Linked DNA regions of Homo sapiens. The protein of the gene in region 3 purifies or fractionates together with the protein of the main gene of each other region. This does not show direct contact. Each region holds a gene or a part of one and is shown on either strand. Other genes may lie near its edges.

Evidence for each region.
Region 1: the proteins of ZNF232 (region 3) and USP48 purify together in Homo sapiens (affinity purification with mass spectrometry; 3 studies listed by BioGRID and IntAct, with this or other methods). This does not show direct contact.
Region 2: the proteins of ZNF232 (region 3) and ZMYM1 purify together in Homo sapiens (affinity purification with mass spectrometry; 2 studies listed by BioGRID and IntAct, with this or other methods). This does not show direct contact.
Region 4: the proteins of ZNF232 (region 3) and PPWD1 purify together in Homo sapiens (affinity purification with mass spectrometry; 2 studies listed by BioGRID and IntAct, with this or other methods). This does not show direct contact.

Annotation. Positions count from the first base shown.
Region 1 is NC_000001.11:21,773,112-21,780,149, reverse strand, and holds part of USP48 (ubiquitin carboxyl-terminal hydrolase 48), read left to right. Parts: intron 1-7,038.
Region 2 is NC_000001.11:35,075,267-35,082,402, forward strand, and holds the start of ZMYM1 (zinc finger MYM-type protein 1), read left to right. Parts: upstream 1-4,118; 5' UTR 4,119-4,176; intron 4,177-7,136.
Region 3 is NC_000017.11:5,105,209-5,108,889, forward strand, and holds the end of ZNF232 (zinc finger protein 232), read right to left. Parts: intron 1,326-3,681; coding exon 616-1,325; 3' UTR 528-615; downstream 1-527.
Region 4 is NC_000005.10:65,559,212-65,566,333, forward strand, and holds the start of PPWD1 (peptidylprolyl isomerase domain and WD repeat-containing protein 1), read left to right. Parts: upstream 1-4,084; 5' UTR 4,085-4,099; coding exon 4,100-4,295; intron 4,296-4,591; coding exon of another isoform or gene 4,592-4,628; intron 4,629-7,122. Other genes in the region: CENPK (centromere protein K), read right to left, coding at 2,286-2,300. UniProt on the Homo sapiens protein: PPIase that catalyzes the cis-trans isomerization of proline imidic peptide bonds in oligopeptides and may therefore assist protein folding. May be involved in pre-mRNA splicing.

The DNA.
Region 1 (7,038 bases), on a different chromosome or scaffold from region 3:
TTTCCACCTTTTGCTTATTTTGAGTAGTACTTCTCTGAACATTTGCATACAAGTTTTGGTCTGAACATCTGATTTCAGTTCTTTACCTGGGAGTGGAATTACTGGGTCATACACAGTCAATTCTGTGTTTAACTTAACCGAACCGCGAAACTTCCACAGTGGTTGTACCGATTTACATTCCCACCAGTGATGTATGAGGGTTCAAATGCTTCATCATCCTCATAAACAGGTACTATTTTCTGTTTTTCTGGTTAGGCCCTCCTACTTGGGTGTGAAGTGATGCATCTTTGTAGTTTTGATTTGCATTTTCCTAGTGACTAATGAGTTCAGCGTCTTTTCATGTGCTCGTTGCCTCTTTTCCTTTTATTGATCAATAATATGCCATCATATCTCTGTATCTACCACATTTTTAATTTGCATTCATCTGCTGATAGACATTTGGGTCATTTCTACTTTTTGGCTATTATAATGTTGCTATGAACATTAGTGTAGTAGTTTTTGTGTGGGCATTTATTTTTATTTCTCTTGGTTATAGAGCAAGAAGTGGGATTGTTGGGTTGTGTGGTAACTTTTAACTTTTTATTATTATTATTATTTTTTTTTTGAGACGGAGTCTCTCTGTGTTGCCCAGGCTGGAGTGCAGTGGCGCCATCTCGGCTCACTGCAACCTCTGCCTCCTAGGTTCAAGCGATTCTTGTGCCTCAGCCTCTGAGTCACTGGGATTACAGACGCCCACCACCACACCCGGCTAATTTTTTGTATTTTTTAGTAGAGACTGGGTTTCGCCAAGTTGGCCAGGCTGGTCTTGAACTCCTGACCTCAGGTGATCCACCTACCTCGGCCTCCCAAAGTGCTGGGATTACAGGCTTGAGCCACCGCACCCAGCTCTTTTAACTTTTATTTATTTATTTATTTTTAATGAGGTCTCACTCTGTAACACAGACTGTATTGCAGTGCAATCATGGCTCACTGCAGCCTTGAACTCCTGGGCTCAAGCAATCCTCCCGCCTCAGCCTCCTGCCACTACAGGCACATGCCACAACACGAGGCTAATTAAACAAAATTTTTTTGCTGGGCGTGGTGGCTCACGCCTGTAACCTCAGCACTGTGGGAGGCCAAGGCTGGCGGATCACGAGGTCAGGAGATCGAGACCATCCTGGCTAACGTGGTGAAACTCCGTCTCTACTAAAAATACAAAAAATTAGCCGGGCATGGTGGCGGATGCCTGTAGTCCCAGCTACTCGGGAGGCTGGGGCAGGAGAATGGCATAAACCCGGGAGGCAAAGGCAGGAGAATGGCACGAACCCGGGAGGCAGAGCTTGCAGTGAGCTGAGATACGCCACTGCACTCCAGCCTGGGTGACAGAACGAGACTCCGTCTCCAAAAAAAAAAAAAAATTTGTGGAAATGGAGTCCCACTTTGGTGCCCAAGCTGGTCTTGAACTCCTTGCTTCAAGTGATCCTCCTGCCTTGGCCCCCTGAAATGCTTGGATTGCATGAATGAAACTGTTCATGGCCTTTTTTTGGCTTTTTTTTTTTTTTTTTTTTTAAGATGAGGGTCTTGCTATGTTGTGTAGGCTGTCCTTGAACTCCTGGGCTCAATCAATACTCCTGCCCCAGCTTCCCTGGTAGCTGGGACTGTAGGCACGAACCACCATGTCTGTGTTTAATATTTTGAGGAATTGTCAGGTTACTTTCCAGAGTGGCTGCGCTATTTTACATATTCACAAGCAGTATATGAGGATTCCAATTGCTCTATGTCCCTATACTTGTTACTGCCTTTTTTCTTTTAGCCATCCTAGTGGGTGCGAAGTGGTGTCTTATGTTTTGATTTGTGTTTCATTGATGACTAATCACGTTAAACATCTTTTTGTGTACTTATTGGCCATTCATATATCTTTTTTGAGAAATGTCTGTTTAAATCCTTTGCGTGCTTTTAAATTGAGTTGCCTTTTGTTATTGAGTTGTGATCTTTTTTTGGTCTTGTTTTTGTTTTGTTTTTTTTTTTCAGACGGAGTCTCACTCTGTCACCCAGGCTGGAGTGCAGTGATGCCATCTCGGCTCACTGTAACCTCCGCCTCCCAGGTTCAAGCGATTCTCCTGCCTCAGCCTCCCGAGTAGCTGGGACTACAGGCGCACACCGCCACGCCTAGCTAATTTTTTTTTTTTTTTTTTTTTGGTATATTTAGTAGAGACGGGGTTTCACTATGCTGGCCAGGCTGGTCTCAAACTCCTGACCTTGTGATACGCCCACCTCAGCCTCCCAAAGTGCTAGGATTACAGGCGTGAGCCACTGCATCCAGCCAAGTTGTGTTCTTTATATATACTGCATATAAGTCCCTTATTAAATATATGATTTGCAAATATTTTTTCTAATTTCTATGGCTTTTAATTTTATTGGTGGTATCATTTTCAGTACAAAAGCTTTTCATGTTGATGTAGTCCAATTTCTTCTTCTTCTCCGCCTTCTTATTCTTATCAGTGAAGCAGGGTTCTTGCTTTGTTGCCCAACCTGGAGTGCAGTGGTGTGATTGTAGCTCACTGTAGCCTTAAACTCCTGGTCTCAAGTGATCTTTTTGCCTCAACATCCCCAGTAGGTACAACTGCAAGTTGTACCACCACACCCAGCTAATTTTTTTGGTATTTTTTGTAGAGTTGGGGTCTTACTATGTTACCCAGGCTGACCTTGAACCTTTAGCCTCAAGCAGTCCTGCTTCAGCTTCCCAGAGTACTGGGATTACAGGTGTGAACCACCTGGCCCCAACATTGTACTATTTTTTTTTTGACGCTTTTGGTCTTGTAAGAAGCCACACCTCACCCAAGGTTTGAGCAGTTTTAATTAATGAATTAGTTAATTTTATGAGACAAGGTCTGGCTCTGTTGCCCAGGCTGGAGTACAGTGGTGCAATCTTGGCTCAATGCAACCTCTGCCTCCCAGGGGCTCAAGCCATCCTCCTACTTCAGCATCCCGAGTAGCTGTGACTACAAGCATGCTCCACCACACTCGGCTAATTTTTGGTGTTTTGTTTTTTTTTTTCAGATGGAGTCTGGCTCTGTTGTCCAGGCTGAGTGTAGTGGCGCAATCTTGGCTCACTGCAACCTCCGCCTCCCATGTTCAAGCGATTCTCCTGCCTCAGCCTCCTGAGTAGCTGGGATTACAGGCATGCACCACCACACCTGGCTAATTTTTTTTTTTTTTCTTTGAGACAGAGTTTCACTCTTGTTGCCCAGGCTGGAGTGCAGCGGCACAAACTCGGCTCACTGCAGCCTCCGCCTCCCAGGTTCAAGCAGTTCTCCTACCTCAGCCTCCCGAGTAGCTGGCATTGCAGGCACCACGCCCGGCTAATTTTTGTATTTTTAGTAGAGATGGGGTTTTGCCATATTGGCCAGGCTGGTCTCGAACTCCTGACCTCAAGTGATCCCCCCGCCTTGGCCTCCCAAAGTGCTGGGATTACAGGCGTGAGCCACTGTGCCTGGCCCTGTCAGCTTTTATTTAGATATCCAAAAAGCTCTCTTTCTACTCACTTTCTTCTTTTTTTTTTTTTTTTTTTTTTTTTTGAGACAAGACACTATTCACTTTCTCCTTTTTTATAGAGACAGAGTCTTGTCACATTGCCCAGGCTGGTCTCAAACTCCTGGGCTCTAGCAGTCCTCCCTCCTCAGCCTCCTAAATTGCTGGGATTCCAGACATGAGCCTTTCTCCTTTTGTTTATTTCTTCTCTTTGCAAGAAGAGACTAAATAAATAAATAGTATCACCAATATGTATTTTTCATACTTTATGCAACAATTTGTTATGAGATACCAAAGCTGAAGAATGAGGTGTTTGACCATATTCAAAGACCACATGTGTCAGGACTGTTTACATTTCTGAAAGTACTTAGGGCAATCACAGGATGAAAGCAGTGTGTACTAAATCCTCTGTCCACAGAATTCTGCAAATATTATGTGTCTTGAGGGCAGACTTGTTTGTTAACAGTGAGGTTGGTGGTCAAGTAAGTTCCTGGAAGTAAAATTGTTGGGTAAGGGATGTGTGTTTTTCATATTGATCCATGTTGCTAAATTGCCCCTCAGAATGAGGGTTTCTCTTTACATTTCCCTGTCAATGTGTAAGAGTATCTTACATATACATCATACCCTCACCAACATAATGTGTTAGTCACACTTTCTGATCTAAGTGCAAAGGGTTTCATATGTTTAATATGTATTTATTTTGTTACAATTTCTTTTTGTTACAGTTAATCTTTTGATGTGAAATTTGTTTTGTTTTGTTTTTGAGACGGGGTCTTACTATGTTGCTTAGGCTGGTCTCAAACTCCTGGGCTCAAGGGATCTTCCTTCCTCAGCTTCCTGAATAGCTGGGATTACAAGTGCATGTCACCATGCCCAGCCTTGATATGAATTTTCAAAGGCTGGATTTACTTATGCTTCCAGCCGTGTATAGGGAGTACAATGTCTGTTTTGTTCTCATTAGGGAAACATCATATGACTATTACTAAATTAAAACATTACAGAAATGTGTGAAGCACTCTAGAAAGCCAGTGTCATGCCACCTTACTTCAGTGGCTTTGTAGCTCTAGTCCCAAAACCCTAATGAGGGCCACGCACGGTGGCTTACGCCTGTAGTCCCAACACTTTGTTAGGCCGAGGTGGGAGGATTACTTGAGGTCAGGAGTTTGAGACCAGTCTGGTCAACATGGCAAAAACCCATTTCTACTAAATTAGCCGGGCATGGTGGCGGCATACACCTGTAATTCCAGCTACTCAGGAGGCTGAGGCGCGAGAATTGCTTGAACCCAGGAGGTGTAGGTTGCAGTGAGCCAAGATTGAGCCACTGCACGCCAACCTGGGTGACAGAGTGAGACTCTGTCTCAATAAAAACCAACCAACCAAACAAAATAACCCTAACGAGGACCCATAGTTCCAGCTACACTGGAGACTGAGGTGGGAGGATGGCTTAAGCTTGGGAGGTGGAGGTTGCAGTGAGCCAAGACCATGCCACCGCACTCCAGCTTGGGCGATAGAGCAAGACCCTGTCTCAAAGGAAAAAGAACAAAGGGGAGTCACAATACATACTTTGTTGCAACTTGTTTCTATTCATGCATGTAGAGCTGCCTTATTTATTTATTTATTTATTTATTTATTTATTTATTTATTTATTTTTGAGAGAGTCTAGCTTTGTTGCCCAGGCTGGAGTGCAGTGCGTGAATTTGGCTCACTGCAACCTCCGCCTCCCAAGGTTCAAGTGATTCTTGGGCCTCAGCCTCCGGAGTAGCTGGGACAACAGGCATGGGCCACCATGCTTGGCTAATTTTTGTAGTTTAGTGGAGACGGGGTTTCACCATGTTGGCCAGGCTGGTCTCAAACTCCTAACTTCAGGTGATCTGCCCACCTCAGCCTCCCGAAGTGTTGAGATTACAGGTGTGAGCCACCGCACCTGGCTATTCTTTTTTCGTTTGTTTGTTTTGAGACAGAATCTTGCTCTGTTGCCAGGCTGGAGTACAGTGGTGCAATCTCGTCTCACTGCAACCTCTGCCTCCCGGGTTCAAGCAATTCTCCTGCCTCAGCCTCCTGAGTAGCTGGGACTACAGGGGCGCCCCACCACACCCGGCTAATTTTTGTATTTTTAGTAGAGATATGGTTTCACTGTGTTGGCTAGGATGGTCTCGATCTCCTGACCTCGCGATCTGCCCACCTTGGCCTCCCAAAGTGCTGGGATTACAGGCATGAGCCACTGCGACCGGTCCTATTCTTTCTTAAAAAATATTCTTATGTATGTTTATGATATATAACATAGCATACATACAGATAGTAAAATGGTAACTGTAATGAAGCAGATTGACATCTGTTATCTCACAGTTACAAATTTTGTGTGTGGCAAGAGAAGCTAAAATCTCATTTAGCAGGAGCCCCAAATACATACCTGCCTTATTATTATTATTATTATTATTATTATTATTATTATTATTATTTTGAGACGGAGTCTCGCTCTGTCACCCAGGCTGGAGTGCAGTGGCGTTATCTGCTCTCACTGCAACCTCCACCTTTTGGGTTCAAGTGATTCTCCTGCCTCAGCCTCCCGAGTAGCTGGGATTACAGGCGCATGCCACCATACCCACCTAATTATTGTATTTTTAGTAGAGCCACCACACCCAGCCAGTTACATAGTTTTTTAAAAATAGAGATGGGGTCTTGCTTTGCTGCCCTGACTGGTCTTGAATTCCTGGCTTCAAGCAGTCCTTCCACCTTGCCCTCCCAAAGTGCTGGGATTACAGGTGTGAGCCACTGTGCCTAACCTTCATTATAATTTATTTAACCAGTTTCCTGTTGATGGACTTTGGGGTTTCCGGTTTTTGATAATACAACCCGTGCTGCCCTAGCCAGCCCTCTGCATCGATCTTGAGTGTTGAGTGAGTGTTTTCACTTAGGTTGCTAGATGAGAAATTGCTGAGGTAAAGGGACTGCTTAGAATTTTGATAGATGTCAAAAGTTCATACCATTTATCCTGGTCCTCTAGAGTGAGTGTGCCTATTACCTTATACAAAGCATTTCTATTCCCAGCTTCCATCTGATTAGCGAAAAATAGCATCTTATTTTCATTTGCCATTTTTTGCTGGTGACATTGAGCATCTTTTTAATTTTATTTTTTAGTTTTATAGAGATAGGATCTCATGTTTTGCCCAGGCCGGTCTTGAACTCCTGGGCCCAAGAAATCCTCAGCCTTGGCCTCCCAAAGTGCTGGGATTACAGGCGTGAGCCACTGTGTCCCTTCTCCTTTTTATATTTACTTGCCATTTGTATTTCTCCTGTGAATTGTGTGTTCTGGATTGTTGGTCATTTTCTTACTGATTTTCAAGAGCTTATTGAATATTTCTTTCTTTTTTTTTTTTTTTTTTTTGAGACCGAGTCTCAGTCTGTTGCCCAGGCTGGAGTGCAGTGGTGTGATCTCAGCTTGCTGCAACCTCTGCTTCCTGGGTTCAAGCGATTTTCCTGCCTCAGCCTCCCAAGTAGCTGAGACTACAGGTGCCTGCCACTATGCCT
Region 2 (7,136 bases), on a different chromosome or scaffold from region 3:
TGTTTGTCTTTAATGGTGAGGTGAGTCTCTTGTAGGCAGCAATATGTTGGGTCTTGCTTTTTTGTTGTTTTTTGTTTTTTTTGAGTCAGAGTTTCACTCTTATTGCCCAGGATGGAGTGCAATGGCACAATCTCAGCTCATTGCAACCTCTGCCTCCTGGGTTCAAGTGATTCTCCTGCCTTACTTCCACTCACATAAAGGAAGCCCCGGATTGGTTTATAGATGGCAGCCATCAAAAAACCCTCCCCTCCAAGAGGATATGCCATTACTGAGGGATATCATGATGATACCCACTCTCTCCCACCTAGAAGAGTTGTAGAGGCTGCCCCCTTGCCTTTGGGCACATCCTACCAAAAAGCAGAAATTAATTGCCCTAATAAGAGCATTAACCCTAGCAAAAACCACACAAGTTAATATATACACCAATTCCAAATATGCCTATAACATCAACCATTCCAATGCCCAAATGTGGAGCAAGTGGGGCTATCTCATGGTTAAGGGAACAACTATCATTAATGGAAAACCAATCCATCATCTACTAAAGGCAGCTTTACTTCCAGGAAAGGTTGCAGTTATTCATTGCAAAGACATCAATCAGATAAAAGCTACATTTCTTTAGGGAACTGTGAGGCTGACTATTGTGCTCAACCAATCACCCAATTCCCCAATACCTATTTCCCCTCATACAACATATCCCCTCCTTTTATCCAGAACACCAAATACAACAACTAATCATGGCAAGGGCACAATTCAAACCCCCATACTGGTTCATACAAAACAAATTAGTCCTACCTGACCCTGAAAAAGCAACTCTTTCACAGGACATTCACAACCTCTTCCACACTAGCCATTGCCCTCTACATTTCTTAAGTTCCCATATACACATAACCCCAGATATAAAGGAACAGTTAAAAGCCATTCCCCATCAACGCTCTATTTGCCAGAAAACTTCACCCCACTGCAACACTAGACCCCCTTCTTTCCCAACCTGTCAAGCCAGGGGACACCTTCCAGGACAGGACTGGCAAATTGATTTTACCCATATGCCCCCAGTAAAAAAAGGTTCAATTTCTGGCCGGATGTGGTGGCTCACACCTGTAATCCCAGCACTTTGGGAGGCTGAGGTGAGCGGATCACTTGAGGTCAGGAGTTCAAGGCCAGCCTGACCAACATGGAGAAACCCCATCTCTACTAAAAATACAAAATTAGCTGGGCATGGTGGCGCATGCCTGTAATCCCAACTACTCAGGAGGCTGAGGCAGGATAATCACTTGAACCAAGGAGGTGAAGGTTGCGGTGAGCCAAGATTGCGCCATTGCACTCCAGCCTGGCAACAAGAGCGAAGCTCCATCTCAAAAAAAAAAGAAAGGAAAACAAATGAATCAGCCAGGCACGTTGACTCACGCCTGTAATCACAGCACCCAGGGAGGCTGAGGTGGGCAGATCACTTGAGGTCAGGAGTTCAAGACTGGACTGGCCAACATGGCGAAACCCCATCTCTACTAAAAATACAAAATTAGCTGGGCATGATGGGGCACTCCGGTAGTCCCAGCTACTTGAGAGGCTGCAGCAGGAGAATCGCTTGAACCCAGGAGGCAGAGGTTGCAGTGAGCCACCAAGATCACGCCATTGCACTCCAGCCAGGGTGACAAGAGCAAAACTCTGTCTCAAAAAAAAAAAAAAAGAAAAGAAAAGAAAAAGAATGAATCAAGCTTCCTATCTCCCAGAGCTCTCCTCCTATTCCTTAGGACTTAATCTTTCAGCCAGTATAAACTATTGAGACTTCAGGGCAAGAAAGACGCATGAAACTTGTGACCTACATCTACTGCTTGAAATATTGGGCCAAATTTTCAGATCTATCACTGGGGGTGGTTGGAATATCACATCTCAAAATTATCACACATCCTTACAATTTTTTATGATATCATGAATCCTACCATTTTTTCAACTCAACTCCCAAGGAAGTTAGTAATGACGATGAAACCACCATTGCAAGATTATGACTGAGACCATGAAGGAGATCTAACCTAATGGACTCCATCTTGGTTCTAACTTTAAACTGTCCTTGTTCCTTCCTGGGCATAGGCTAAACTAACTTTGGGAGGAATTTAGTTTATAGTTTAAAACAAAGACAATAACAGCCCTTTCCCAAAACAAACCTCCTCCTTGCCTGGGGACTAGACTGCCTTTATAAGATTAACAAATTAGCCACAAGATTAGAAATTATGGTTTAGGAGTCATGCAGCTGGAGGCCAAGATTCTGACCCTCCCTAAACTGCTCCTGAGACCAGTGCTTGAGATATTTTGCAGACCCTGCACTTGATGGATCAGCTGGTACCACCCAGATAGATAAACAGGCTCATCTGATCTTGTGGCCCCCACCAGGGAACTAACTCAGCGCATGAGGACAGACAGCTTCAACTTCCCATTATTTCATCTCCTACCTAACCAATCAGCGCTTCTGGCTCACTGGCTTCCCCCCACCCACCAGTTGTCCTTAAAAACTCTGATTCCCAAATGCTCGAGGAGACTGATTTAAATAATAATAAAATTTCAGTCTCCCGCACAGCTGGCTCTGCGTGAATTACTCTTTCTCTATTGCAATTCCCCGTCTTGATAAATGGACTGTGTTTAGGTAGCGGGCAAGGTGAACCCACGGGGCATTTACAATGACATCACTTGCCTTTGGATGCCCACTGAACCAGGACTCATTTCTGGGTTCCAATCTAATCCCAGTCACTGAGTTGCTGTGTAACTTGGGGCAAATTACCTTTATCCTCTTGCCTTCAGCTTTTCCTTTGGTAGGAAGGGAGCATTAGAGGAGAGATCATTTCAGTAAGGTCCTTTCTAATCCTAACAGTCTAAACAGATTATTATGAATATTAGAAGGTAATAATAAATGTTGGAGAAATTAACTTCAGTTACTCGTATAATATTTCAAATTACCAAAGGGTTTATATTAGATTTGAGGCTAATTCCAAAGGATATTTAAGGACCATAGCAGCAAGGATTAGGAGGCCCTTTTGGTCTGGACCTCACCTTCACAAGGGCCTCAAATTTAGATTTTTGAGAATATCTCCTTTAAAAGTAATTGTCAAATATGATTATAATAAGTTCATCATTCAACCTTATATATATATTTTAGAATCCTCTTATGCCTTTAGGAATAGCACAGTTAGTTCGTCCTATACTTTTTTAGGTGTTGAAAGTATTGTCAAAAAACATTTAAAATATGCCATTATTTTTGACATGCAGTTTGGGGTTATTTTAATTTTTTTTTTTTTTTTTTTTTTTTTTTTTGAGACGCAGTCTCTCTCTGTCGCTCAGGCTGAAGTGCAGTGGTACAATCTCAGCTCACTGCAACCTCTGCCTCCTGGCTTCAAGCGATTCTCCTGCCTCAGACTCCCAAGTAGCTGGGATTACAGGCGCCCGCCTCCATGCCCGGCTAATTTCTGTATTTTTAATAGAGACGGGGTTTCACCATGTTGGTCAGGATGGTCTTGAATTCCTGAACTCAAGCAGTCCACCCGCCTCGGCCTCCCAAAGTGCTGGAATTATAGGTGTGACCCACCACACCCAGCCTGGGGTCATTTTAATTTTAACGTACTAATGAAAGAAGTCTGAACTCCCTCCCTACCTCTGAGGATAATTTCCTTTTACTAGGAATTTACTCTGCAACTGGCACTTTGCTAACATTGCCTGTCATATTTTTTTTTTTTGAGTCCAGCTTCTGCAGAAGCCTGCCTAATGTTTACAAACCTACGATGCAGCCACTACAATTATCCCCATTTCAAGGTCGAAGAAATGGAGATTTATAGAAGTTGTCAAATCGCTTACTAGCACACAGCTAATAAGTAGTAAAGCCATCTCTCAAATCCAGGAAATCTAACTGCCCTGCCTGAGCTCTGAGTCAAGGGTCCTACTTTGGCTGCCAGCCAGCGACGACTTCAAGGGTAAGATCCTATGCGGGCCGTAAGGACTCTTCCCCTCCCCCTCTCCCACTTCTTCTATCCCAAAGTCGCTCTTCCCAATTCAGGGAGCTGGGACCACCCTGAGCCAGCGGCCCTGCGCATGCTCAACCGCAGAGCACGACGGGAGAGGGGCGGGGTCGGCGGGGCCGTTTCGCTTCGAAGATTGTTTCAGAAGCGTTGGGCGGGGCGTCCCTGAGAGAAATTAGTAAGCCTCCTCATGCGGCTCTGGTTTCGGTCTTTACTCCTGCGCCTTACTCGAAAGGGGCAGGGTTTCTGCTGTCGGTCGGAGGGAGGATGACGCGCCGGGTCGGGGTTTTAGAGACGGAGCTTTGAGTGCGGATTCCGCCAGATGGGGGTCGGGAACTCCGGGCCAGGCCCTGACGTGGATTGTGTTTGCCGCCTCCTTTAACCTTGCCCTCATAGACTGGGGGGGTTAGTGCTCCCCGCTTCCAGCGATTCTCGCCGCCTCCTGCTCCTGTGTAGTAACTGGGCCTTCAGACTTTAGTCTCGCTCCGCAGCCTCCGTTTCAGAAGCCCCATCACACCTGTATCTCTCCTTCATTGAGCAGTGATTTTTCAAAAGTTTGACTCCTGGCCGGGCGTGGTGCCTCAAGCCTGTAATCCCGACACTTTGGGAGGCCCAGGCGGGCGGATCTCTTGAGGTCAGAAGTTCGAGACCAGCCTGGCCAACATGGCAAAACCCCGTCTCTACTAAAAGTACAAAAATTAGCTGGGCTTGGTGGCAGGCGCCTGTAATCTCAGCTACTCAGGAGGCTGAGGCAGGAGAATCGCTTGAACCGGGAGGCAGAGGTTGCATTTAGTCGAGATCGTGCCACTGCACTCCAGAGCGAGACCCCGTCTCAAAAAAAAAAATGAAATGTTTGCTGAACCCCAAAAGCACAGTTTGAACGCTGCTGATTTACAAGATTAATTTTAAGGTATTTGGTATCAGGGACCTTCCTGACATGACCCATGTCTACTTTTCAAACTTTCCAGTTCCTTCTACTAGCACTCTTGCACTTGTACTTTATCTGCAACAACAGTCCCACTCCTTCTAGTTCCCATATATTTGTGCTTCTTTTTTTTTTTTTTTTTTTGGAGACTGGGTCTCGCTCTTTGGCCCAGGCTGAGTGCAGTGACACGATCACGGCTCACAAGCAGCCTCAGCCTTCCGAGCTTAAGCGATCCTCCCACCTCAGGTTCCAGAGTAGCTGGAACAACAGGTGCTCCCCACTACGCCCAGCTAATTTTTGTATTTTTTGTAGAGACAGGTTATCTTCATGTTGCCTAGGCTGGTCTCGAACTCCTGAATCGAAGCAATCCACCTGCTTGGGCCTCTCAAAGTGCTGGGATTACAGGCTTGAGCCACTGTGCCCGGCTATTTGTGGTTTTGTACATGCTGTCTCTATACCAGGAATATCCGCCATCATTGGTTGGTAGACACTTTAAAACCCAGCTCAAATTTCACCTCCCAGAAGACTGACCGTCTTCTTTTTTCATTTCTTCTCAGTACCTTGTATATACTTACTGGTTGGGACATCCTACTCATCAGTGTAACCCGGTACCAAGGCACTTCGGAAATGATGGCTCTTCATTGCCTGCAGAATTAACCATGGACATTTTAGTTTGGTTTGAAAAACATATAGCCTTCTGCCTCCAGCCTTCCCATCAGGCTAGTAAAAGACCTTGCAGAACTCAGTTGAATAAAATAATTTTTTTTTTTTGAGACAGCATTTCACTCTTGTCTCCCAGACTGGAGTGCAGTAGCGCGATCTCAGCTCACTGCAACCTCCACCTCCAGTTCAAGTGATTCTCCTGCCTCAGCCTCCCAAGTAGCTGGGATTACACCACACCTGGCTAATTTTTGTTTAGTAGAGACAGGGTTTCACCATGTTGGCCAGGCTGGTCTAGAACTCCGACCTCAGCTGATCCACCCTCTCAAAGTGCTGGGATTGCAGACAGGAGCCACCGTGCCCGGCCGAATAAAATAAATCTTAGCAAAGTGTAATGTATAAAGAAGTGGTATAATGCGAAGAAATAAGGGATAGGAGTATATCTGCTTCCAGACTCTGTTTTGTTTTTGCTTGTGTCCATACCACACTATCTTAATTTACTGTAGCTTTATAAGCCCTTCCAACATTTTTTTTTTTTGATATTGTCTTGGTTATGCTAGGCTCTGTATGCACATTGTATATACATTAGAATTACCTTACAAATTCCACAAAAACCCCTGCTGGGATTTTCATCTACAGCTTAATTAGGAGAAAAATTAATATTGACTCTTTCCATCAATGAGCATTTATTTAGATCTTCCTTAATTTCTCTCAGCAATGTTTTGTTTTCACTGTAGAGTTCTTTAATAGCTTTCATTAGATTTATTCCTATATTTGATATTTATGATGCTGCAGAAAATGGTTATTTTTATATTTTTCTGTTCTAGTATAAAGAAATAAAATTGATTTTTTGTTTGTTTGTTTGAGACGGAGTCGCACTGTGTCACCCAGGCTGGAATGCAGTGGCACAATCTCGGCTCACTGTAGCCTCTGACACCCAGGTTCAAGTGATTCTCCTGTTTCAGCCTCCTGAGTAGCTGGGATTACAGGTGCCCACCACCATGCCCAGCTAATTCTTTTGTATTTTTAGTAGATACGGGTTTCACCATGTTAGGCTGGTCTTGAACTCCTGACCTCAGGTAATTCACCCATCTCTGCCTCCCAAATTGCTAGGATGACAGGCGTGAGCCACTGCACCTGGCCAAAATTTATTTTCGAATGTCTTGCTAAGCTTAATAACTTGGAGATTCTTTTGAATTTTCTTTGTATAGAATCATGTCATCCATGAATAATAACAATTTTAACTGCCTTTTCAAAGTTTGTCTTTTATTTTTTCTTGCTTTATTGATCTAACTAGAACTTCTACTACAATGTTGAAGATAAGTGATAAGAAAAATTCTAAAATGCGGATCTTGTATTATCCTATAATTCTGCTGAATTCACTTATTCTAATAGTTTCTTTTGCGGGGGGTGAGTTGGGGGAGGTTCCTTAGAGTTTTCTATATGCAGTCATGTCTACAAATAAAAAGTTTTCTTCCTTTCCAACTTTTTTTTTTTTTTAAATGGAGTCATGCGCTGTCACCCAGGCTGGAGTGCAGTGGCATGATCTGGGC
Region 3 (3,681 bases):
CCAAAAAAAAAAAAAAAAAATTCTAATGAAGTAGCCAGGCATGGTGGCTCAGGCCTGTAATCCCAGCACTTTGGGAGGCAGAGGTGGGCAGATCACGAGGTCAAGAGATCGAGAACAGCCTGACCAACATGGTGAAACCCCGTCTCTACTAAAAATATAAAAAATCAGCTGGGCATGGTGGCACATGCCCGTAGTCCCAGCTACTTGGGAGGCTGAGGCAGGAGGACTGCTTGAACCCGGGAGGTGGAGGTTGCAGTGAACTGAGATCGTGCCACTGCACTCTAGCCTGGCGACAGAGCAAGACTCCGTCTCAAACAACAACAACAACAAAATTCTAATGAGGTAGACATTATTGGTGGGCAAACTAGGCAGATCATGCTGGAAAGAAGCAAAACAACTTGGCTACTACTTGCATCCAAAGCATCCTAATTAATATCAGTATCTTCATCAGAGGACATGAAGGGATGATCTACAGGCAGAACTAAGTAAACAGTTTTTCCAAAATCAAGAAAGACACAGGAAAAATCTTAAGGAACTTATAACTTTTATGGGATCCAGTCCTAAAGTAGATTAGACCGATGTAGAATTCTGTCTGGAGACGTTCTCCCCTTCAATTCAATGGGAAGGCTCTTTTCTGGCATGAACTCTCCGATGTCTAATGAGCTCTGAGCACCATCCATAAGCTTTCCCACATTCTTTACATATAAAAGGTTTCTCTCCACTGTGAATTCTCCGATGCTGACTTAGATATGAGCTTTGACTAAAGGCCTTCCCACACTCATTACACTCATAGGGCTTCTCTCCTGAGTGAATCCTCTGATGCTGAACAAGATGAGCACCCCATCTGAAGGCCTTCCCACATTCATTACATTCGAAGGGTTTCTCTCCTGTATGAATTCTCTGATGCTGACCGAGGTTTGAGCTCTGTTTGAAAGTTTTCCCACAGTCACTACACTTATAGGGTTTCTCTCCAGAATGAACTCTCTGGTGGACAACAAGATGTGAGTTATAAATGAAGGTTTTACCACATTCACTACATTCATGGTCTTTCTTCCCTGTGGGAATTTCCTTATGGATGACAACCATCTGCCTGAAACTTTCCTCCTGGGCAGGGGACCACCTCAGTCTCTCCGCTTTGGGATTTCTCTGCTGCAGTTCTAAGGTACCCTCAGAGGTAGCTTCAAATGTAGAGGTGTCAGTAGCAAGTTTTTCTGAGAACACCTGTGATTCCACTTCAGTAATGGGTGGTTGTGGCAATGATCCTTTGTCCTTGGGCTCTGGGCCATCTTCTGTAACAACTGACAGAAAATGTAAATATACCTGTTCTGGATGTATGAAGAAATGACACTTAGATTAAAATGTATATTTCTGGAATGAAAACAAATGCTTAAAAACAACTATATATATGACAAACATTCGAAGAATATTTACTGGATATTGCCAACAGTTATCTCTTGGTGATGGGACTATACAGAGGAGAGGGTTTCTTCTTTTTAATTTCTCCCATTTATCTGCTTTTTTTCCCCTAATTTCTCCATAATGAAACACTAAAGAAGTTTTATTGAAAAAATGAAAGCAATTACAATGCATGGTCTTTTTAGGATTTTTCATATTTTCAAGGAATCAGGGAATGATGTTGTGAAGAAAGGGAAAAACATGAAAGAATCATTAGGGTTAAGGAAAAGGGAGGTTTCTAAAGGCAAAAAAAACTGTGCCCTTCCTGGCTCTGCAACCTTCACCTCTTCCCATCCGTTTCCCAGCTGCATCAATCTATAGCCTCTTTAGAGGACTCTCAACTAACTGCCTCCTTTATCAAAGGGAGGACTTCCAGCTCCCTGCCTCCTATCTGCTTGGTGCTCTCTGCCTTTCTCTTCCTTAAAAAGGGAAAAAGAGTGTGTTGCCGGGCGTGGTGGCTCACACCTGTAACCCCAGCACTTTGGGAGGCCAGGGCGGGTGGATCACGAGGTCAGGAGATCGAGACCATCCTGGCCAACACGGTGAAACCCCGTCTCTACTAAAAATACAGAAAATTAGCCGAGCATGATGGCGGGCGCCTGTAGTCCCAGCTACTCAGGAGGCTGAGGCAGGAGAATGGCGTGAACCCGGGAAGTGGAGCTTGCAGTGAGCCGAGATCACGCCACTGCACTCCAGCCTGGGCGACAGAGCGAGACTCCATCTCAAAAAGGAAAAAAAAAAAAAAAAAAAAAAAAAGAGTGTGTTGCCTTTTTGTTTTTAAATGTCCATAGCACATTTTATGTTTTATCTGTTGTAATGCTCCCTATAGCCTAAGGAGAACAGAAACCAATTGCTTTAAGATAACTCAAGGTCATTTGACTTTTTTTTTTTTTTTGACAGAGTCTTGCTCTGTTGCCCAGGCTGGAGTGTAGTGGCATGATCTTGGCTCACTGCAACCTCTGCTTCCCTGGTTCAAGTGATTCTCGTGCCTCAGCCTCCCCAGTAGCTGGGATTACAGGCGCGTATCACACCTGGCTAATTTTTGAATTTTTAGTAGAGACAGGGTTTCACCATGTTGGCCAGGCTGGTCTTGAACTCCTGACCCAAGTGATCCACCTGCCTTAGCCTCCCAAAGTGCTGGGATTATAGGCGTGAGCCACCGTGCCCAGCCAAGATCATTTGATTTTTTAAAAATTCATTTTTTCAGGTTAAATGCTGTGGTTAAAAAAATCTGAAATATGCTTGCTATATATAAAAAAAAAATCACACAATAGCTAGCTTCTTTTTGAGAGTAAAGTAATAAAATTGATAAATGAATAGAGGCTTACTAAACAGAAGTAAAGGAGACAAGAAAAAGTCTGGAAAAAAGTCAAGGAAGAAAGAAGAGCTAAGAAGTAGAAACATACTTTTGGGACAGAGTCTAATTAATCTCCATTTCTATTTTTTCCCATTTTGTAACTAAGAAGAATTTGATTTTTCAAATGCCTTGGTTTGGTGATAGTGATGGGGGGGCAGTTATGGTGTAAAAGCAAATATCAAGTAGACTCTTCTTGGTTAGCCGCATATTCACAATACGGTCACAAGGCTACAGAGGTCAACAAGGAGAGTTCACGCCCCTGAGGCTCTAAGTCTAGTGTTCGCCGCTGGGAGAGAGGAGAGGTTGTTTGCAGGTATGTATGCAGGCCAAGAAGGAAGTTTCTGTAGTGAATCTGAAGGGTAGAAGGTGAGGGCACACATAAGAGAGTTTCAGATAGGGCTGTTTACATGAGGAAGAGGTGGTAAAGGTGATGACAGGCTGTATCTCACATAGGAGTGCTTTATGGCTTAAAAAGTGTTTTGCGAGGCCTCAGCGAGTTTAAAAAAAAAAAAAGGATCTCAAGGCTGGCCTCTAGCTCAGGGCAGAGTTATTATAGACTAGGAGTTAAGTGCAGTGGAGATGATAAGGCATAAATGAATGAGCTATTTCCTGGTCCTGATTTAGGGCTCTCTAAAGTTAAGAGATGCTGGCCAGGCTTTATATCCAGATAAGACCCAAGTTGAGCTTAATCCTCAGAGCTATCTTATGAGGTAGTTTATTCTTACTCCTAATTTTATGAGTGATGAAACAGGCAAAGTCTCTCACCTAAGAGATAAGAATAGTAAGGCTGTGATGATACCAAACATTTAAGCACCTACTACTATTTACCCTTTACAGGTACTAGGTACTGTGCCCTTTATAGTCCCTCT
Region 4 (7,122 bases), on a different chromosome or scaffold from region 3:
TCATGGACTGAAAGACCCACATTGTAAAGACGTTAATTCTCCCCCAAGTTGAGCTACTGAATCTTAACCAAAATCCTGAAAGTTTTTGTTTCTCTTTATGGGACTTGACAAGCAAATTGTAAAATTTACATGGAAGGGCCGGGCGCGGTGGCTCACGCCTGTAATCCCAGCACTTTGGGAGGCCGAGGCGGGCGGATCACGAGGTCAGGAGATCGAGACCATCCCGGCTAAAAGGGTGAAACCCCGTCTCTACTAAAAATACAAAAAATTAGCCGGGCGTAGTGGCGGGCGCCTGTAGTCCCAGCTACTTGGGAGGCTGAGGCAGGAGAATGGCGTGAACCCGGGAGGCGGAGCTTGCAGTGAGCCGAGATCCCGCCACTGCACTCCAGCCTGGGCGACAGAGCGAGACTCCGTCTCAGAAAAAAAAAAAAAAAAAAATTTACATGGAAGCACAAAGGGCCAAAACTAGCCTAAGATCCTCATGAAAAATAAGATGGGAGGACATACCCTACACTATTATGGCAATGTAGAACTGGCACATAAATAGGCAAATTGAGCAATGGAACACAATACAAAGCCTTTCTTGACTTTCTATATTCACATACATATGGACACATGACACATGACAGAGATGACAAGGCAAATCAAGGAGAAAAAAATAATCCAAATAGATATATATTTTATATATAATACTGTTTTTTAAATGTATATTTTGGTCCATATAAATCTTCCTCATTTTTTTTTAACATTTATAGTATTTGCGGAGAAAAAAATAAGTCTAAATTCATACCTGAATCTTTATGTCATTCCTCACTCCCTCAAAAAACCCAAAATAGAAATCACAAAAAAATAGGATGAAAACACAGAAACTTTTAAAATCTTAGATTAGGAAACACCTTTCTAAGCAAAACTAAGTAAAATCTTTACACCAAAATTTTTTTTTTAATTCTGCATGGACAAACATCTCATCAACAAAGTTAAAATTTAAAACCCCCAAACCTAGGAGAAATACTTGTAATATATATGGCAACCCAAGACCTAATTTCCTTAATATATAACAAGTGCCTACAAATTCATAAGAAGAAACCAAACAACTCACCATTAAAAAAAATTTAAAAAAGATTACCAAAAAAGTCAGGTTACCAATTACTTTGGAGGAAGAGTGGAAGGGGGAAAAGGGTTGTGGCTGGGATGGGCCAAATGGAGAGATTTCTGAGGTAATTATCAAAGTTTTATTTTTTGACTAGCATGATGGTAAGGGTGTTCACCTCATAATAATTAGTAAACTTTACGTTTATTTTGTGTCTGCATTTTTACAATAAAAAGGTAAACAACAAAAACAATTCAATAGAAACTGGCAAAGAACACAAATGAGGAATTCAAAGAAAAAACAAATACCTTTTAAATACAGAAAAAGTACATTCATAAGCTCATATATAATTTATGAAAATCCAAATTAAACAAGCATTAATTTTCATTCAGAATGGCAATAATGTAAAATTGGTAAGAGATAATACTGGCAAGCATGTGAAATAAGAGGCTTGCACTGTTGGTGGAACAATCACTTTGTATGATAATATCCATCAAAATTTTACATGCATTTCTTGTGATCCAGAAGTTCTATTCTTAGGAATAATCCTAAAGATAGATATGTCTGCATAAGTCTATACAATTATGTTTACTGGCACATTACTTAGAGAAAAAAAAACTTTAAAGGTATGAACTCTGCAACCAGACTATACAGGTTTAAATCTGTTTTGATATTTAAAAGCTATGAGACTTGGGCAAGTCACTTAAACTTTCTATGCCTCAGTTTCCTTTCCTATAAAATGAAGATAATATTAAATACTCCCTAGGGTTATGACAATTAAATGAGTATATAAATATATATATATAAGTACTGTAGCTAGCATATAAAGAGCTTTATCAGTGTTAGCTATTAACAATTTGAATGTCAACTAGTAGAAGGCTGAAAATCTCACCTGCTATACCCATAAGATACAGTTTAAGTTCACAAAGCCAAAATCAGTCATCATGAATTTTAGAATATTTTTAAGCGAAAAAGTCAAACATAAATATTTCTTTACTGACCACCAAAATACATTATCAATATGCAAAAGTAATGCAAAACTCTGCACATGTGGTGGGGGCGGAGGGTGAGGGATAAATATTCAACAAATTATCTGGCTTGGCGATTTAATGTGGCAGTAGAATAAAAACATATAGAAACATTTAAGAGTTTGCTCTCTACCGCTTGAGGATGCAAGATGTAAGCTGTATGTAACCTGGAAGAGGGTCATCAACAGAACCAGAAAATGATGGCACCCAGATCTTGAATCTCCAGCCTCTAGACCTGTGAGAAATAAATTTCAGTTGTTTAATTAAAACACACACACACACACACACACTTAAGAGTTGAACTTTTCCCGTTCCCACATTTTGTATCCTTAAACCTATCTTCCTGGAAAGGGAACAAGTCAACTTTTTGAGGTCCCCAGTTAGGACTACAATACTTAATCATTTATTGAAGAAAAACAGTATCTCTTTATTTAGGGATAATACTATACTTAAAGAAACTCGTACTATTAATTGGGAAAAGATTAATATACATGAAATAAGCAAAAAATACCCACATAATTCTAAAATACATTCATTTATTCAACAAATATGTTAATGTGTGCCATTGGTCAGACACTGGCTTTAGCTGTGTAGATGAAAAAGTCTTTGTACTTGTAGAGCTTCCATTCTCATGCAGACAATATAAATGAATGGATAACTAAATACATGATATGATTTCAGGTAGTCAGAAGTGCTATGAAATGGTAAAGTATACAACACTGCCTGCAAGTACTATCGGAATTCAGGATAGGGAAGCTTAGAAAAACCAACCCGGAAGGAATTAGTCCATAATAATGCTTAATAAATGTTAACTAGCTACATTATTATTATCATTATCATTATCATCTTCATCCTCATTATTGCATTGGTCTCTGAAAGATGAGAAGCTGTAAACATGAAGGCTAAATCGCTGTGGAGATGCTTTCAAGCATAAAAACATAAGAGTAGGAGGCAAGAACGAACAAGGGAAATTTGTGAGACACAAAAGAAAGTAGTCTGATGAGAGCAGAGGGCAGAGAAGAAATGAGACTTGCTAGGTAGAATGGTCAAATAATGGGAACCTTTGAAATAAAATAAAGTGCCTACTATGGGGGGGCAGTTCCTTCCCTGTACGTGGTGCCTATCTCAAGGCAAAAGTAGAGAAGAGATTTACGACGAGGATTTTATTAGGTTGGTGCAAAAGTAATTGCAGAGAAAAAAGAAGTGTTTTACGGAGGTCATTTTGACAAGCTGTATTTGATTTTTTAAAAAAGAGATTAAGATAATACATTTTATGTTATGTGCTTTTTACCTAATTTTTTAAAAATGAAGAAGACAGATGAGGAGGAGGAGAAAGAGTTCAGATGACTGCTAGGAGATGAAATCCTATACCAGAGAGAAGAAAGAAGAGTGACCCGTTCTGCCCTAGGTCTTTTGGTTATTTGAAGTAGCTGCTTCTCCACCCCACCCCCAGAAACAGTAACAAGCACTCACCACCTTCTTCAGAGAGTGTGTGAGAGAATAAAGGTCAGGAGAGAAAACATGTTTAGTGCATCTGAAAGGAAACCCGCGAGTTAACCACTTCCTTCTGTCCCCACCCTTCCATCTTTCTCTAAATATTGGTGAGGTTATGGAGCTTGCGTTGGCGCGCGGGAAGCCGAGAAGAACGGGACTCAAAGCCCGGCTGGGAAGTCAGGTATCTAGTTGGCCGGCGATAAGGGTTTCACCTTCAGGACTGGAGCTCCACAAGATTCAACCGTTATATCAACCTCCCCGGCCCAGGTCTTACCATCACAGCGTCACAAACTCCAGGTCGCCTAGGCGCTGCGCAGGAAGCGCTTGCCAGCCCCGGACTTCTGCGCGCGCTGCATGCCCATTGGATGTGCTCATTCCCACCCCAGCCAATCCCGAAACTCGCTCGGACGCTGACAGAAGACTGCGCCGCTGCTTTGGGATTGGTAGCTGAGTTTTGTGTCGCGCCTTTTCTGACGATGCGAACAACATGGCGGCGGAAAGTGGTAGCGATTTTCAGCAGAGACGTAGAAGGCGCCGGGACCCGGAGGAACCGGAAAAAACAGAACTCAGCGAAAGAGAGCTGGCAGTAGCAGTGGCGGTGTCCCAGGAGAACGATGAGGAGAACGAAGAGCGCTGGGTTGGACCTTTACCTGTGGAGGCAACACTGGCCAAGAAGAGGAAAGGTAGCTGCAGACATAGTACCGGGACGAATTGGAGTGCTGCGTCCGCTGAGTAGGAGGGTTCAAGCCAGATCCGAAGAGGGATGATGTGTGGAGTTTTGTGCCCTCAGAACAGAGGGCCGTCCTCTCACTTCTGGCTACTCCATACTTGCATGTCTTAACGAAATAGTGATTTAAGCGTAGTACAACGTCTTTTTGATAATATCTAACACTTTTGATCATTGATTTGTTATGACAGATGCTAAAACTAACATTTTCCTATTCTTATGTGTTTGGCTCCTCTCATTTACTCCCCACAGCAGCCACATGAAGTTGGAATTTCGAACTCTTATTTAGGTATGCAAAAGGGTACCAGTTCTCTTTAAGGCTTTAGTTCAGGAGTGGTGTTAATGTATTAATGTGTTGGGGCGCGAGAGGAAGGCGGTGCTTATTTCGAATCATGGTAGGTAAAGATAATTTCAACTCTGACACTTCCACTAATAAATTTTCGCATCTAGGGAAAATGACGTAAGCTTCCTAGATCACAGATTTGTTTTCATCCAAAACCCGAAGTCTGTGGTTTTGAAATCACGCTCTTGATACGATGGGCTGAGTCTTTTTGTCACTAACGAGGAATAATCACAAATTATTATCAAATAAAAGGGGTGGGAAAAGGGGTAGATTAAGTTTTCTTGTCTTTGTTGTTTTGTTATCTTGTTTTTCTGTGAAATGTTTTCCTTAAGTATTTAAGACATTTTAAATGTGGTCTAAGCTCAAATCGTACTTTAGCACCTTCCCTTAAAAAACTTCAATGATTTGTCATTATTTTCTCTCTCTTTTTTTTTTTTTTTTTTTTTTTTGAGACGGAGTCTCGCTCTGTCGCCCAGGCTGGAGCGCATGCAGTGGCGCTATCTCGGCTCACCGCAACCTCCGTCTCCGGGGTTCAAGCGATTCTCCTGCCTCAGCCTCCCGAGTAGCTGGGGCTACAGGCGCACGCCCAGCTAATTTTTGTATTTTTAGTAGGGACGGGGTTTCACCATGTTGGCCAGGATGGTCTTGATTTCTTGACCTCGTAATCTGCCTGCCTCGGCCTCTCAAAAGTGCTGGGATTACAGGCATGAGCCACGGCGCCCAGCTCATTATTTTCATTAAAGCCCAAACTCCCTCACATGGCATATAAAGCCCTTTATGATGTGATCTCTCCTTACCTTCTTAGTGCATCTTCCATTACCTTCCTCTCCCAACCCCTTACTTTGTACTCCACCCATTCTAAAATCACTCGAGAATCGGTCTTGTACTTTTTTTTCCTCTGGATTCCTACCCAGATATGGTGTTTCTACCGGGAATAATTTCCCTCAACTCTTCCACTGAACTGACTTTTGGTCAACCTTTAGCACTTAGCTATCATCTTCTCTGGGAAGCCTGTGACTTCTCCAGTCTGGACTGGATTTCTGAAGCACTTTGATCATAACTCTGAGGTAGTTATATATCAATACTGAATTTACAGGTAGCCTTCAAATTTTATGTATCCAAATTTTGAAGAAGCTGTTTTTTTGAACGTTGTATATTGACACCCTTACAGTGCATTATCATTTTTACTTCCTGGTCCTCTTATTAAATGTTTCCATAGTAACCATTTTATTTATGGCACTTGCCGCAGTTTCTAATTATATATTTATTCATGTGATTGATGAATGTTTCTCTCCACTGCTAAGACTGTAAACAAGTAAGAACCAGAATCACGCCTTTTTTGTTTCATTGCTTGGTGTACAGTGCTTTGCCTAAGTATTTAATGACTGCATATTAAAGCTTTTATGCTGGTCTTTAGCTATTTTGTTGCATATGAATATTTTTGCAAGTTCTTTTTTAATTAAACGAGTAAGGAGAAATGTAAAAATCCAGAAATATCGAAATGCTGATATTAGTGTTACCGGACAAGTGTCTTATAAACTTAATATAACGGAGACAGATATAAATTAGTAGGTGTGAAAATCTTTCCTCTTAATCAGTTATTTATTGTTTTAAGACAGCCAATAGTTGGCCGGGTGTGGTGGCTGATGCCTGTAATCCTGGCACTTTGGGAGGCTGAGGCGGGCAGATCATCAGGTCAGGAGTTCTAGACCAGCCTGACCAACATGGTGAAACCCCGCCAGTCTCTACTAAAAATACAAAAAAATTAGCCGGGCGTGGTGGCGCACACCTATAATCTCAGCTATTCAGGAGGCTGAGGCAGGAGAATCACTTGAACCCAGGAGGCAGAGGTTGCAGTGAGCTGAGATTGTGCCACTGTACTTCAGCATGGGCAACAGAGCAAGACTCCGTCTCAAAAAAAAAAAAAAAAAAAGCCAATAGTTTATTCAGTTTGAAGAAAAAAATTGAAACTAAAAAACATACATAGAATGTTACAAAAATATTTAAAATTTTGTCTAAATGGACAAGTATTTAACAATTTCAGCTTTCTAGAAATGGAGTCACCCCCTTTAACATGTTCTTTGGACATTGGACTGTTGTATATATTTTCAGAAAGACATGATTATATAGCACTATATCTCTTCAGGACAGGAACTGTGTTTTACTCTTCTTTATGCCCATGTGACCTAGAACGTATTGTGTTCTTAGTAAGTATTTGTCCACAAGTGAACTATCACACAGAAAAAGGAATCTGGATCAGATAGGATTAAGTTTATCTACATACTACAGAAAAACCCAAAATAACGATGTTGAAGAGATAGAGCTGTACTTTTATGTGTAGAAGTACCAAGACAGGCAGGCAGTCCAGGATTGGTGTGGAGGCTCCAGAAGTTCCTAGGCTCTCTCCAGCTTTCTGCCCAACATAACTAAGGTACAGCCC